Regions from separate parts of the Homo sapiens genome. Here region 1 is linked to region 2. Evidence: fine-mapped expression QTL. Tissue or cell type: subcutaneous fat. Region 2 holds a variant in brackets; the other region holds the start of a gene. All regions are shown on one strand. Distances are from middle to middle.

What was found. PIP is the estimated chance that this variant, and not a neighbour inherited with it, causes the effect.
Region 1: it holds the start of NSMCE4A, and the variant in region 2 is fine-mapped to the expression of NSMCE4A in subcutaneous fat (GTEx, PIP 0.97).

The regions. Positions count from the first base shown.
Region 1 is chr10:121,972,966-121,978,554 of GRCh38, forward strand. NSMCE4A (NSE4A component of SMC5/6 complex) reads right to left here and starts at 2,252. Exons shown (of 11, transcript NM_017615.3): 1 at 1,909-2,252; 2 at 1,039-1,116. The coding sequence starts at 2,200. It overlaps LOC124902517 (a long non-coding RNA gene), which reads left to right and starts at 1,902. Exons shown (of 2, transcript XR_007062322.1): 1 at 1,902-3,190; 2 at 3,323-4,812. RefSeq lists a silencer at 1,654-2,453 and an enhancer at 1,891-2,686.
Region 2 is chr10:122,037,607-122,045,242 of GRCh38, forward strand. All of the region lies in intron 2 of TACC2 (transforming acidic coiled-coil containing protein 2), which reads left to right. Among named protein-coding and RNA genes, the nearest start is that of TACC2, 52 kb to the left of the region's middle. The variant A/C (reference allele first, on the strand shown) is at 4,301.

The DNA.
Region 1 (5,589 bases), 66 kb before region 2:
GTGGCTCATGCCTGTAATCCCAGCACTGTGGGAGGCGGAGGCAGGTGGATTACCTGAGGTCAGGAGTTCGAGACCAGCCTGGCCAACATGGCGAAACCCGTCTCTACTAAAAATACAAAAATTAGCTGGGTGTGATGGAGCACACCTGTAATCCCAGCTACTCGGGACGCTGAGGTAGGAGAATTGCTTGAACCTGGGAGGTGGAGGTTGCAGTGAGCCGAGATTGTGCTACTGCACTCCAGCCTGGGCAACAGAGACTCCATCTCAAACCTCAAAAAAAAAAAAAAAAAGGATATATTTGGCTGCATTCTCCCCTATGTTCCCACAGACCCGTCAGAGAGGGCTGGAGGGGACAGTGGTCTGGGTAGTAGTCCTGTGGCTCTATGACCAAGTACCCACATCAGGGAGTACCCCTCTGTCACCAAGCAGACAGACAGCTGCTACCAATACCACTGCCTCTGCTTTCAATTCAAACTAAGGTTATTTTTTAAAGCACCCATGGCCTAGAGTTCAGTGCTCTGGGATCTCTCTCACTCACTCACTCACACACAACACACCCCAGACTGGAGACCAGCAGGTACACTTGCAGGCTTTGCCACCTCCATTGTGTTACACGTGGACCAATAGCAGGGAGCTGAGGAAGGCAAAACAGAATGGGACAGGAAAAGAAACAGGATTTCAGAGGCTAGCTCAGTTCTGTAATTCATCCACTCAACCAATGTATACTAGGGATACGGCAGTAAACACAAGAAAAAGAAACAAGATAACACATGTAACGTTCTCAAACTTGAAGAGGCAACAGAATCAACTGGGGGCTTAACACAGACTGCGGAACCTACCCCCAAATTTTCATGTAAAGCCCTTATTATATGGTAAGTGCATAATAAAAATGGCATTATTGCTATAATGAAACGGTTCCCGAACTGGGAAAGCACTATTACAAATGTGGGAATTGTTTTATGTCAATAATTTGGCGCTTATGTAACACTAATTAAAAGTATCATAAAACACGAAATAACATATAAAATAACAAATTACCTTCATTAAACAGAGTGTTAGCCTCTTCAAGGACCTCTGTTAATTTGTCACCGGCATTCAGTATGTCCTCACGGTTTTCTATTTTTAAAAATACAAACTTTGGGAAATTTGTTCAGCATTCACTAATAAGCAGTTGACAAGGTTATCACCTGCAACAGTAAAGCCAAGCCCCGGCCCCTGCGCTCTGAGTAATTACTTCGAACATCTTTATCTTTTTAACCAAAATGACCCGGAAAAGGAGAAAGGCCACCCTACCCTTTATGCAGCATGAATTTTAAAAGGAAACCCTAGCTCCCTCTAACCTTAACCCAAAGGGCTGGACTCCGGCTGCAGCCTCTGAGTGCTCCATAACTGAGTGGTTCTCAAACTTTGCAAGCAATACACACCATCACCTGGAGGGCCACTCCACAGTTGCGCGGACCCACCCAGAGATTCGAATTCCGCGGGTCCGGGTGGGGTCCGAGAACGTGCATTTGACAGCTCTCGCGTGCCGCTGCAGCTGCAGCTGCCGCTGCGAGGCCGGGAGCCCACGCCGAGGACTGCCGGGCGCAATCAAAGCACGCGGAGTCCGCGTCCTGCCTCTCCCCACTGGCTGGCTGGGCTCGGGCGAGTCCGCGAACGGCTCTGGCCTCCAGCTTTTCCAGCCCGCCACTCGGGGACCCGCGCCAAGGTCGTACGGCTCCAGCCACAAAGTGGGAGCACTTTGTCAACAATTTAAGGTGCGGCGAGGGGCTGGCACCCGGCGCGTCTCTACTAACGCCGCGCCGGGCCTCCGCCCGGCACCTGCCTCCGGTGCCCTCCCCCCGCGCCCGGCGCAGGGCGGGGACAGCGGCCCGTCCGGGCCCGCGCCGCCCGGAGGCGCCGCCTTACGTTGGACGGAGTTGATGAGCGCCCGGTACTGATGGCGGATCTGGCGGCACAGGCCTTGGTCGGCCTCCGCCTCCAAGCTGGCCGGGTCCATCATCTCGTCCCCGGAATCCGACGGCTCTGTGTCCTCCAGGCTCGGGCGCTCTGGGGCCTCTCTGCGCTCCCGCGCAGAGCCGCGGCGGGACCTGGGCGACAAAGGGGACCGCGAGCGGGAGCGGGAGCGGGTGCGATCCCGATGCGGGTCGCGGCCCCGGCCCCGGCCCTCTGGCCCGCGGCCGCTGCTGTCCCCAGACATAGCGCCAATTCACCGTGCAACTTCGGAACGGCGGAAGTTCGCGCCAGAAACTGAAACCCCTGCTCTGCGCCAGCGCCTGCTCCCGGCGGAACGCGGCTCCCGGGCCCGCGCGAGCGCACAGCGACGCCTGTGGCTGGAGGCCGGCGACGGGCCCGGCCGGGTCTCCAAGGCGCCTGGGGGGACCGCTGGGTGCACAAGAGGGGCCTGGCGGGGATCCTTTGTTCCCTTGACAAGAGGTGTAATGAGCTCTTACTCCACACTGCAGGGCTGTGAGAATCTTGGTTTTCTGCCCCTACTTTCCCACCCTCCTGGACCTGCATCTTCCCTAGGTCCCTTTGCCTGCCCAGGACACAGCCGCAGCCTGGCACCCACATGGGCACGCAGTCCATGTGTGTTGAACGAGCTTCCTGCTGTGGAGCAGGATGAGCGCGGGATGTGGAGTCCAGACGCGGTCTGCTGCTCACCTGCGACCTCAGTTTCCCTGTGCCATCATGGCTGGGGTCGGGGGGGTGGGGAACAGGGGTGGGTGGATGAATCAAATATTTATGTGCAGCTGGCAATACCATTTTTTGTGAGGATAGCAGAACAAATTAACAGGTAAACATCCTTCTAAATATCTACAACAGAATGTCACCAGAGCACCAGGGTTTTGTTCTAGGACCCGCTGCCCCCTCACAGAAATCACTGAGAAAACCATTATTACCAAGGAAGAAGGCTTTAGTAGGGTGCTGCACTCAGGGAGTTGGAAGCTCAGTCTCAAATCCATTGCCCTGACCAACTAAAATTAAGGGTTTATACAGTTGCAGGGAAGCAATGTAACAATGTATGGGAAAAGAGGAACTCGGGAGGGGGAAGGAAGCTATGGGGATGCATGAGGGGCTTGGCATCTCATTGTCTGGAATGCGGTGATATGGCGAGTTTCAGTTTTTTGATACTTTTTGAGAGGCTCTGGAGGTCCTTTCCTGAGGAAGGAACTCAGATAAAACAAAGGTAAGTTTCAACCTTAAGACTAGAAATGATAATTTCTAAGTTTATTAAAAAAATAGTAAACAGTCTATGGGATTGTTGGGTTGATTTTAATGACAGTCTATGTTCACATTTGATTTTTTTTTTTTTTTTAAGACCTTGCTCTGCCGAGGCTGGAGTACAGTGGCACTATCTTGGCTCACTGCAACCCCATCTCCTGACCTCAAGTGATCCGCCCACCTCGGCCTCCCTAAGTACTGGGATTACAAGCATGGGCCACCAGGCACAGCCTGATTCTGATTCTCAAACTAGAAGATTCTAAGAATACCTCCTGAAGGGCCCAAGAAAGATGGAATTATGTTAAGTATACTTTGAAAGATAAATGTATGAATTTCACTCCGTGCATTTTGGATTGTATTCGAGTATTGTTTCCCAAAAGTTGTCTTTGGTGCTAAGAACACATTTTCTCAAAAGACCAATATTATAAGTTGGGTTATTACACAACCTACAAATATTCCATTTTGTGCATCATGTCTACTAAACTTAAGTTAGGCACTGTTCATTGCTGTCCAACAGCTACTACCTCACCCATCCCTGCTTATCTGTATTTCCTGAAGGGGACGTGTGTGCCTACTTCCTTAGATGAAACGTGATCACTCTAACCAGGTCACGGTAATGTCATTCCCCTTCCCCAGTGACTGGTCAAGGGTCATGTGATGCAACCTGGGTCCGTGAGATGTGAAAGGGTTTCCCAACTGGATGGAATACAAACCTTCCTGAAAAGAAAACCCTTGACCCCCTACCCCCTTTGAGATGGCTGGCATAAGAAATGGGGAACCTGCCAATTAGCGGGCATAATGGTGCGTGTCTGTAATCCCAGCTAATCGGGAGGCTGAGGCAAGAGAACTGCTTGAAGCTGGGAGGTGGAGGTTGCAGTGAGCAGAGATCGCGCCATTGCACTCCAGCCTGGGTGACAAGAATGAAACAACGTCTGAAAGAAAAAATGTGGAGCCTGCCATATTGGCAGCATCTGGTACTCACGAGGTGACAAGCATGAGGAAAGACTAGAGTGCTGGAGACACTGGAGAGCAAAGATGGACATGGCTGAATTGCTGAATCAACCACATGCCTCCAGACTCCCTGTAAAGTAAGCCATAAATCATGGTTTAAACCAGGTCATTGTTTCATAGTTGTTGCTTGTAGCTCAGTGTTCTGTAATGGAATACTTAGCGTTCTTCCAGGTGAAAGTGTGTCCAGAATTGGTGGGTTCTTGGTCTCACTGACTTCAGGAATGAAGCCGCGGACCCTCGCAGTGAGTGTTACAGTTCTTAAAGGTGATGTGTCCGGAGTTTTTTCCTTATGATGTTCAGATGTGTTCGCAGTTTCTTCTTTCTGGTGGGTTCGTGGTCTCACTCGCTCAGGAGTGAAGCTGCAGACCTTCACGGTGAGTGTTACAGCTCTTAATGCGGCGTGTCTGGAGTTGTTCGTTCCTCCCGGTGGGTTTGTGGTATTGCTGGCCTCAGAAATGAAGCTGCAGACCTTCACAGTGAGTGTTACAACTCATAAAAGCAGTGCAGACCCAAAGCGTGAACAGCAGCAAGATTTATTGCAAAGAGCGAAAAAATAAAGCTTCCACAGTGTGCAAAGTGAGCTGAGTGGGTTACTACTACTGGCTAGGGCAGCCTGCTTTTATTCTCTTATCTGGCCCCACCCACATCCTGCTGATTGGTCAATTTTACAGAGAGCCGATGGGTCTGTTTTACAGAGAGCTGATTGGTCCATTTTGACAGGGTGCTGATTGGTGCGTTTACAATCCCTGAGCTAGACACAAAAGTTCTCCACCTGTCCACTAGATTAGCTAGATACAGAGTGCTGATTGGTGTATTTACAAACCCTGAGCTAGACACAGAGTGCTGATTGGTGCATTTACAAACCTTGAGCTAGATACAGAGTGCCGATTGGTGTATTTACAATCCCTTAGCTAGACATAAACGTTCGCCAAGTCCCCACCAAATCAGCTAGACACAGAGCGCAGATTGGTGCATTTACAAACCTTGAGCTAGACACAGAGTGCTGATTGGTGCATTTACAAAGCTTGAGCTAGATACAGAGTGCTGATTGGTGTATTCACAATCTCTTAGCTAGACATAAAGGTTCTCCAAGTCCCCGCTAGACTCAGGAGCCCAGCTGGCTTCACCCAGTGGATCCCGCACCAGGGTGGCTGGTGGAGCTGCCTGCCAGTCCCTCGCCCTGCACCCCACTTCTCAGCCTTTGGGCAGTTGATGGGATCGGGCACCCTGGAGCAGGGGGCGGCGCTCATCGGGGAGGCTCGGGCCACGCTGGAGCCCACGGTGGCAGGGGGAGGCTCAGGCATGGCGGGTTGCAGGTCCTGAGTCCTGCCCTGCGGGGAGGCAGCTAAGGCC
Region 2 (7,636 bases):
TGCTTTGTTGAGTCCCTGTGGCTTGTTCAGAGAGATGGTCTTTGAGCCTTTGCAGGGGCTGCAGTCCCTCATGTATACCCATCCGTGTGAGTAAATCTCCTCTGCTTCAAGCTCAGGGTATTGGGTTATTCTTTGCACCTCAACAGTCACGGCGCCTGAGTCTTTCTCTTGTACACAATGATCAAGGGGCAGAGCCCCTTAGCAGTGTTTGGCTCATTATTCTGGATGGGGCTGAGGTCCTGGGATAATAGAGAGCAAGAAGCCTGGGAGGCCAGAGGCTCCCAGGTGAGGCTTTTTGTTGGTTTTTGTTTGTTTGTTTGTTTGTTTGTTTGTTTTTGTAGGAGATACCTCAGAGAATAAAAGGAGTGCACTCAGTAGCACTGTAACCAAACCAAAGCTTCAGTCACTCACCACTTGTACAGTCCAATTAACAAGAGCTACAGGAGTTTGAGACTAGCCAGTGCAACATGGCGAGACCCCTGTCTCTACTAAAAATACAAAAAATTAGCAGGGTGTGGTGGTGTGCACCTGTGGTCCCAGCTATTTGGGAGGCTGAGGTGGAAGGATCACTTAAGCCCTTGGGGGAGAGGGGGCAGAGGTTGCAGTGAGCCAAGATGGCGCCACTGCACTCCAGCCTGGGTGACAAGAGTGAGACCTTGTCTCAAAAAACAAATAAACAAACACACAAACCAAAAAACGAGTGAGGGCTGACATGAAAAAAGTGACTTTTTATTCTAAAGCTTAGCTTAGGGGGAAAAGTACAGGCTTCTGCTTTTAAGGGCACTGCTTTGCTTTTGGGGCAGAAAGCAGGGACTTTTAAAGGGGGGACTTTGCATGCACAGCAGGTGGGGAGGGAGTGAGTAGGTGGGGGACCACTGGACTCACTTCAGTGCCTTATCCACCAGGTGGTCCAGCTGGCACAAAACTAGGTTCTAAGGTGGTCGTTGTCTTGAGACGCTCTCCAGGTGGGAAAGACTTCCGTCGTGGGCGTACTTGAGGTTGGAAATTGACAGTTGTTTCTTGAGGCAATCTCCTGCTGGGAGAGCTTTCTGGCTCTGGAGCTTCTAAGTGAGCACAGAGTCAGATAAGCTTGTCCTATAGGGAGTGTCTGGTGAAGGGAAGGTCAAGGTTATAAGGTTATAATTGCATTTCTAAAGCGCTAAGTAGGAAGTGAGGAACATGAGAAAAGAAGGAGAGAGAAAAGAAAAAAAATAATTAAAACCATTTTCTTTCTCTTAGAAAAATGGGATACTCAGTTACAGCATCATTGCATTAAAGGGACATTGAGTTTTGCAGGTGGGGGAAGTGAAATGGCTTAGAAAGAACATTGGCGGGGGACACAAGGTTCCTGACTCATGTGTTTTTTGCTTTTTTTCTGTTTTGTTTTGAGACGGAGTCTCACTCTGTCAGCCAGGCTGGAGTGCAGTGGCACAATCTTGGCTCACTGTAACCTCTGCCTCCTGGGTTCAAATGATTCCCCTGCCTCAGCCTCCGGAGTAGCTGGGATTACAGGCAGGTGCCACCATGCCTGGCTAAGTTTTGTATTTTTAGTAGAGATGGGGTTTCACCATGTTGGCCATCCTGGTCTCGAACTCCTGACCTGAGGTGATCTGTTCACCTTGGCCTCCCAAAGTACTGGGATTACAGGTGTGAGCCACCGTGCTGGCCTCCTGACTCTATTTTGAAACCATGATCTTCTGGGCTTGTGGAAGGAAAATCAGCCTCCCCTTGAGAGGGTTGGAACCTGGTAGGTTCTCAGAGGGCAGCTGGCATGGGTAAGGTGGGAAGGTTAAGGGTCTGTTCCGTGATGATCCTGGGATATGAGGGTTCAGGCTGCTGATCTGAGTGCAGAAAAAGGCGTGGGAATTGGAAGGTGGGGGTGGAGACAAGGTCAGATGAGGCAGCAGGGTCTGGGGCGGCCTGAGATGTGGGGTTGGGGGACAACAAGTGCCTGGGAGGACTGGGCCTTCAGGCAGATGAGGGAGGCAGGGAGGTAAGCACAACAGGACCTCTCCTCGGAGCCTCTAGGCAGTGAGCCGGCAGTTTATTTCGACAGTATTTGCTTTTGACACTTTTTGAAAACAATTAATTGCTGCATTAATTACAAACTGATTTATCTTATTCAAGTAGTCAATTTTAATAACATCACAACAGTCTTACCTTCCTATCCTGCCAACCAGTCACAGTGATTTCTTGTTTTGTCAGCACAAATGCTATTGAAACTCTGAATTTTAGTGGTAGCTTTGGGTTCTGTTCTCTGTTCCTGAGGGAAGAGAAGCCATCGACAGAGGAAAATTCCCACACTCAGCCTGAAACCTCTTCTATCTGCTAATTGGAGGTTCCTCTTACTGAGCTGGGGCCATGGAGCCTCAGCCCAGCCCCTTGTGGGTGCCTTTTGCAGCAAGCTGAGTCCTAGTTGTTACCCTTGCTCCTTCCTTTGGGAATGGACTCACTTAGGCCTCCTGGGAGGCTGTTCTCAGGGGGCTCTAAGCAGCCTCGGTTACTAAAGTACACTTGCACAGGTGATGTATTGCACCACCTGATGGTTGGAAATGAAGAGAAATGTATAACCACGGCTCTAAAGGGTGACTCGTTTGGGGAGTGGGAGGACACGGTCCAATGGGAAGTTGGGAGACTGTCTAACACCCAGCCAAGGGGGGCATCACCTGTTCCCGGGAGTGTCAGGGTCCTGGCTTATGTGTGTCCCTCTCTGGGAAAGAGGTGGTGGTGACGCTGTGATGAGAGCTGTCTCCACTCGACAGCCCTTCCAGGGGTTTCATGCATCCTGACTTGTTTAGAAAGCTCTGTGGTGAAATAAGGGCCATGCCAGCCCACAGCCCCAAATCCTGAAGGTGGGCTTCACAGTTGTTCAGTTCTGGAGAGCCCTACAGGGGACATCTGAGCTCCAAGCTCCAAGCATGTGGATTTCAGAAGGGAAGGGCAACCCTAACCCCTCCATTACCACTCTCTGGAGTTCCGCTTGGCCATGGGGCTGTCATGATTCCCATTTATAGCTCTGACCGTGTGGGGAGGAAGAAAAGACATTCAATCCTATTATTATAATGATCTCACTTAAAACATATCATCATTCAGTAACTCCATTCTAACACTTCTATTGTCTGGGTGTTTCTGTAACAAGTCCCAAAAAACATAATTTTCAACTCTAGAAACTGTGATCAATGCTATGAAGCAAGAAGACAGGTGCACAGACCCCAGACCTAGCCTGGGTGTCAAGGAAGGCGCTTCTGGGGAGCTGATGTTTGAGCTCAGAGCTGCAAATGAGCAGGAAGTAGGTGACATCAGAAGGACCCAGAGCCAGCTCAGCAGACACGCCTCCCCCAGCTTGGGCAGGTCCCCCCGGGTCGGGTCCCTGCTCTGCGTACAAGATGTGGTCTGAATGAGGTTTGCTGCTGCAGGAGACCTCAGCAATGTGGACATCTGAGGAACAGAGGACCAGGAGGACAGGAGAATCTGTGTATGCGAGCCGTCCCCAGGGTCTGGTCATCAAGAAAGGCTGAGGTTGTATGTTGCTCAGGCGCTGTGTGGTTGTTACTTTGCTTGACAGAGGAAAGTGCCATATATATGTGCACATCTTGTTTAAAGCTATGCTTGGTGCTCTACGGTTAACTTGAAGGTCCCTTCTTTAGCTCTTGAGGAACTCAGCATTACAGCAACACTCAGCCAGTGCAGGACAGGGAGCATTTCCCAATATTCCACAGGCTGCAGGTGGGCATCTGGGCTGCTTTAATGTGTTTAATGTGAAAGAAGTTGAGCAAAGAACAAGTTAAGCAGCAAGAATTAATTCAATCTTCATGACAGCACAGAGTTTCCTTTCTTTTTTTTTTTTTTTCTCGTAACGAGACAGAGTCCTGCTTTGTCACCCAGGCTGGAATGCAATGGCGCGATCTCGGCTCACTACAATCTCCGCCTCCTGGGTTCAAGCAGTTCTCCTGTTTCAGCCTCCTGAGTAGCTGGGATTACAGGTGCACACCGCCATGCCTGGCTACTTTTTTGTATTTTAGTGGAGACAGGGTTTCACCGTGTTGCCCAGGCCAGGCTCGAACTCCTGAGTTCAGGTAACCCACCCACCTTGGCCTCCCAAAGTGCTAGGATTACAGGTGTAGCCACAGCACCCGGCCTTGACAGCAGAGAGTTTCTTTACTGTCACCTGTCTGCTCCCACAGCCCCTGCTGTGGGGTTCCCCCAGCCCGGAGGGTCGGTGCTAGTTTTCACTGGCACGATTACGCAAGTGTGTGAACAACACGGCTCCAGGTTTTGGCCAGATGCATCTTCTGAATAA[A/C]TGTGTAAAATGTTAACTTTGGGAGGAGCTGTTCTTTTCTTTTTTCTTTTCTTTTTTGAGACGGAGTCTCGCTCTGTCACCCAGGCTGGAGTGCAGTGGCGCGATCTCGGCTCACTGCAAGCTCCACCTCCCAGGTTCACGCCATTCTTCTGCCTCAGCCTCCCGAGTAGCTGGGACCACAGGCGCCCGCGACCACGCCCGGCTAACTTTTTGTATTTTTAGTAGAGACGGGGTTTCACCGTGTTAGCCAGGATGGTCTCAATCTCCTGACCTCGTGATCTGCCCATCTCAGCCTTCCAAAGTGCTGGGATTACAGGCGTAAGCCACTGCACATGGCCTTTTCTTCTTCTTTTTGAGAGAGAGTCTCACTCTGTCGCCCAGGCTGGAGTTCAGTGGCACAGTCTCAGCTCACTGCAACCTCTGCCTCCCGGGGTCAAGCGATTCTCCTGCCTCAGCCTCCCAAGTAGCTGGGATTACAGGTCCCTGCCACCATGCCCAGCTAATTTTTCTATTTTTAGTAGAGATGGGGTTTCACCATGTTGGCCAGGCTGGTCTCGAACTCCTGACCTCAAGTGATCCACCCGCCTCAGCCTCCCAAAGTTCTGGAATTACATGCTTGAGCCACTGCACCCAGCCTGAACTTCTGATTAACTGCTTTTGCTCTAAGCTGAGATAGCCAATGGGGCTCTTCATTAATGAGTTTTGAATCTGTTTCTTCTTTATACAGTAACAACCAGCATGTACAATGTCTACGTGGTCTAGCCTTGTCCTTTATTTAACCTTCAGAACAACCCTGCAGTTATGACCCCCATTCTACAGATACGGTACTCGAGGTGTAGAACCCAGAGACTTACAGCTAAATAAGCAGTAAAGCTTGGGTTTCAGAACAATTGTACTCAGCTTCCTGCCTGCTCATTCTTAAACCATGCTGCTGTAGCATGAAAATGAGTGGATACAGGGATTCTAGAGGGGCAAAAGAAATAAAGTTTATGTCTGCACTTTAAGTATAATCAAGTAAACATCACAGCATGGTACAGGCCATCCTGACATGCCCAGCTCTTTGAATAAAGAGACTCTCCCTTTTATTTGTACAGTTGTTGTTTACAAGGCATTCCTATCACCCACTGAGGTAGGGAAGGGCAGAGATTGTGGTCCCCAGTTTATTGACGGAGAGAGAGAGGCTTGGAGAGAGGAACTGATCTGACCAAGGGCACATGGATTTGGATTTTCTGACCTCATCCAATTCTCTTTAAATCATATTGTTTCTAAAATATTAAATACATACAGGTCATCAACATTGGGTATGTTTTTGAAGCCTTTAGTCTGCCACCTACAAACTACAGACATCAGAACATGTCACCTCTTACATCTTTGAGGTTCCTGAATCCTTTTAGGGTAATGGCCACCGCTTGTGACCCAAATGCTTCTGAGGAAGGGAAGGCAGATATGATTTACTAAATATCACTCATTCATTCACTAAATTCAAAATTCCATGAGGGTAGTAGGAACCATGTGTCTCTTTTTATAATTAGATTTCTTTCTTTCTTTCTTTCTCTTTCTTTCTTTCTTTTTCTCTTTCTTTTTCTTTCTTTCTTTTTCTCTTTCTTTTTCTTTCTTTTCTTTCTTTCTCTCTCTCTCTGTCTCTCTGTCTCTCTCTCTCTCTTTCTTTCTTCCTTTCTTCCTTTCTTTCTTTCTTACAGAGTCTCACTCTGTTGCCAGACTGAAGTGCAGTGCACAATCTTGGCTTACTGCAACCTCCACCTCCCAGGTTCAAGTGATTCTTGTGTTTCAGCCTCCTGAGTAGCTGGGACTACAGGTGCCCACCACCACACCTGGCTAATTTTTGTACTTTTAGTAGAGATGAGGTTTCGCCATGTTGGCCAGCCTGGGTTCGAACTCCTGACCGCAAGTGATCTGCCCGCCTCGGCCTCCCAAAGTGCTGGGATTACAGGCATGAGCCACTGTGCCTGGCCAAATTTTACTTTAGAGTATTTTCAGATTTATAGAAAAGTTGCAAAGATTGTATGGAGAGCTCCCATATAGATGCTTCCCCGGCTTCTCCTAAAGTTAACATTTTACACCATGCCTGTTTTAGTCATCAGTGTCTACCCAGAACCTAGACCCAGCCCTTACTATTCATGAGGCATAATCATCAAAACACACGTCAAACTCTATTCTGTTATTTTCCATCTTTTAAAGGAAGAGTGAGGACTCAAACCCAGCTCTCTCGGGCTTCGAAGCTTATTCATTTCTTCTGCTCTATCGTGCTGTATCACATCAGAAAACATTCCGTTTGCGGAAAGCTGAAATCCCACGCTGGCAGCCTTTCGCTTGTTGGCCTGACAGAGTGCCTGCTAGGTTAGGCTGAGGTGTCCTCTGCAACCTGTATTCGTCAATCTTTTGTACCCCCTTGGAGGGGAAGAAACATTTGGGATGGTCTAGCAGAACTGGTGTGAGCATTTGCCTTCCCTTGACAGGGAAGATGGGCAGCCGGCTGGCTCTAGCACAGAGCATGTGTTCATCCTCCATATTTGGTCAGCCTGGCAGTTGTTTCTGAAATCCGATTCCTAATGCCATGGGGATGACCTTTGGTCTGCTTCCCAGCATTCACCTGCAGTCAAGCTGCTCCCAAGGAGCTCGTTCAAAGAGGGGGCGACTTAGGCAGACACTCTGGTCATGATCTAACCATGTTAATTAAGCATGGTTTAATTAACTCTATTGGCATGACCAGTAAGCAGTGGTCTAGAGTGATGGAGCGTTTAAGAGGTAAGTGGAATTTTTTTTTTTTTTTTATGGTGAAATGCTTTAGCTCTTTACAAAGTATATTTTTTAGGACTGGAAAATTGCTGTAACTGTTTAAAGATTGCTTTAAAATAGACTCCAGGCTCTGGAGTGTTCCAGAGCCAACGAAAGACTGTTTGTTTACTCAAGCAATGGCAGCGAGGGAAAGATTTGAAGAAGCAACTGGGCGAGTCCACGTGTCCTGTAAGGCTTGCCAATTGTTTTTCCAGCCTGCGATTTGGAAGTGTAAAGGGTAACTTTAGAAATGCATGCTGTTTTGCAGTGACGCCTGCTGACACACAGGTCCTTTGGAATCCAGTAAGCAATAGAGCTTAAGACTATCTCTAAGACGGGGAACAGGAAGGGGGATTCAAAAGCACAGGGAAATGTGGCAAAAGCGAGAGTTCCCAGGGCTGAGGGTACGTCTTTCGATTTGCAGACATGGCCACCAGACTAAATAAGAATAATCTACTTTTCATACATTCAACAAATATTTATGGACTGCCTCTTCTGTGCCAGGTGCTATTCTGGGCATCAAATCTAGGCTCCTATACC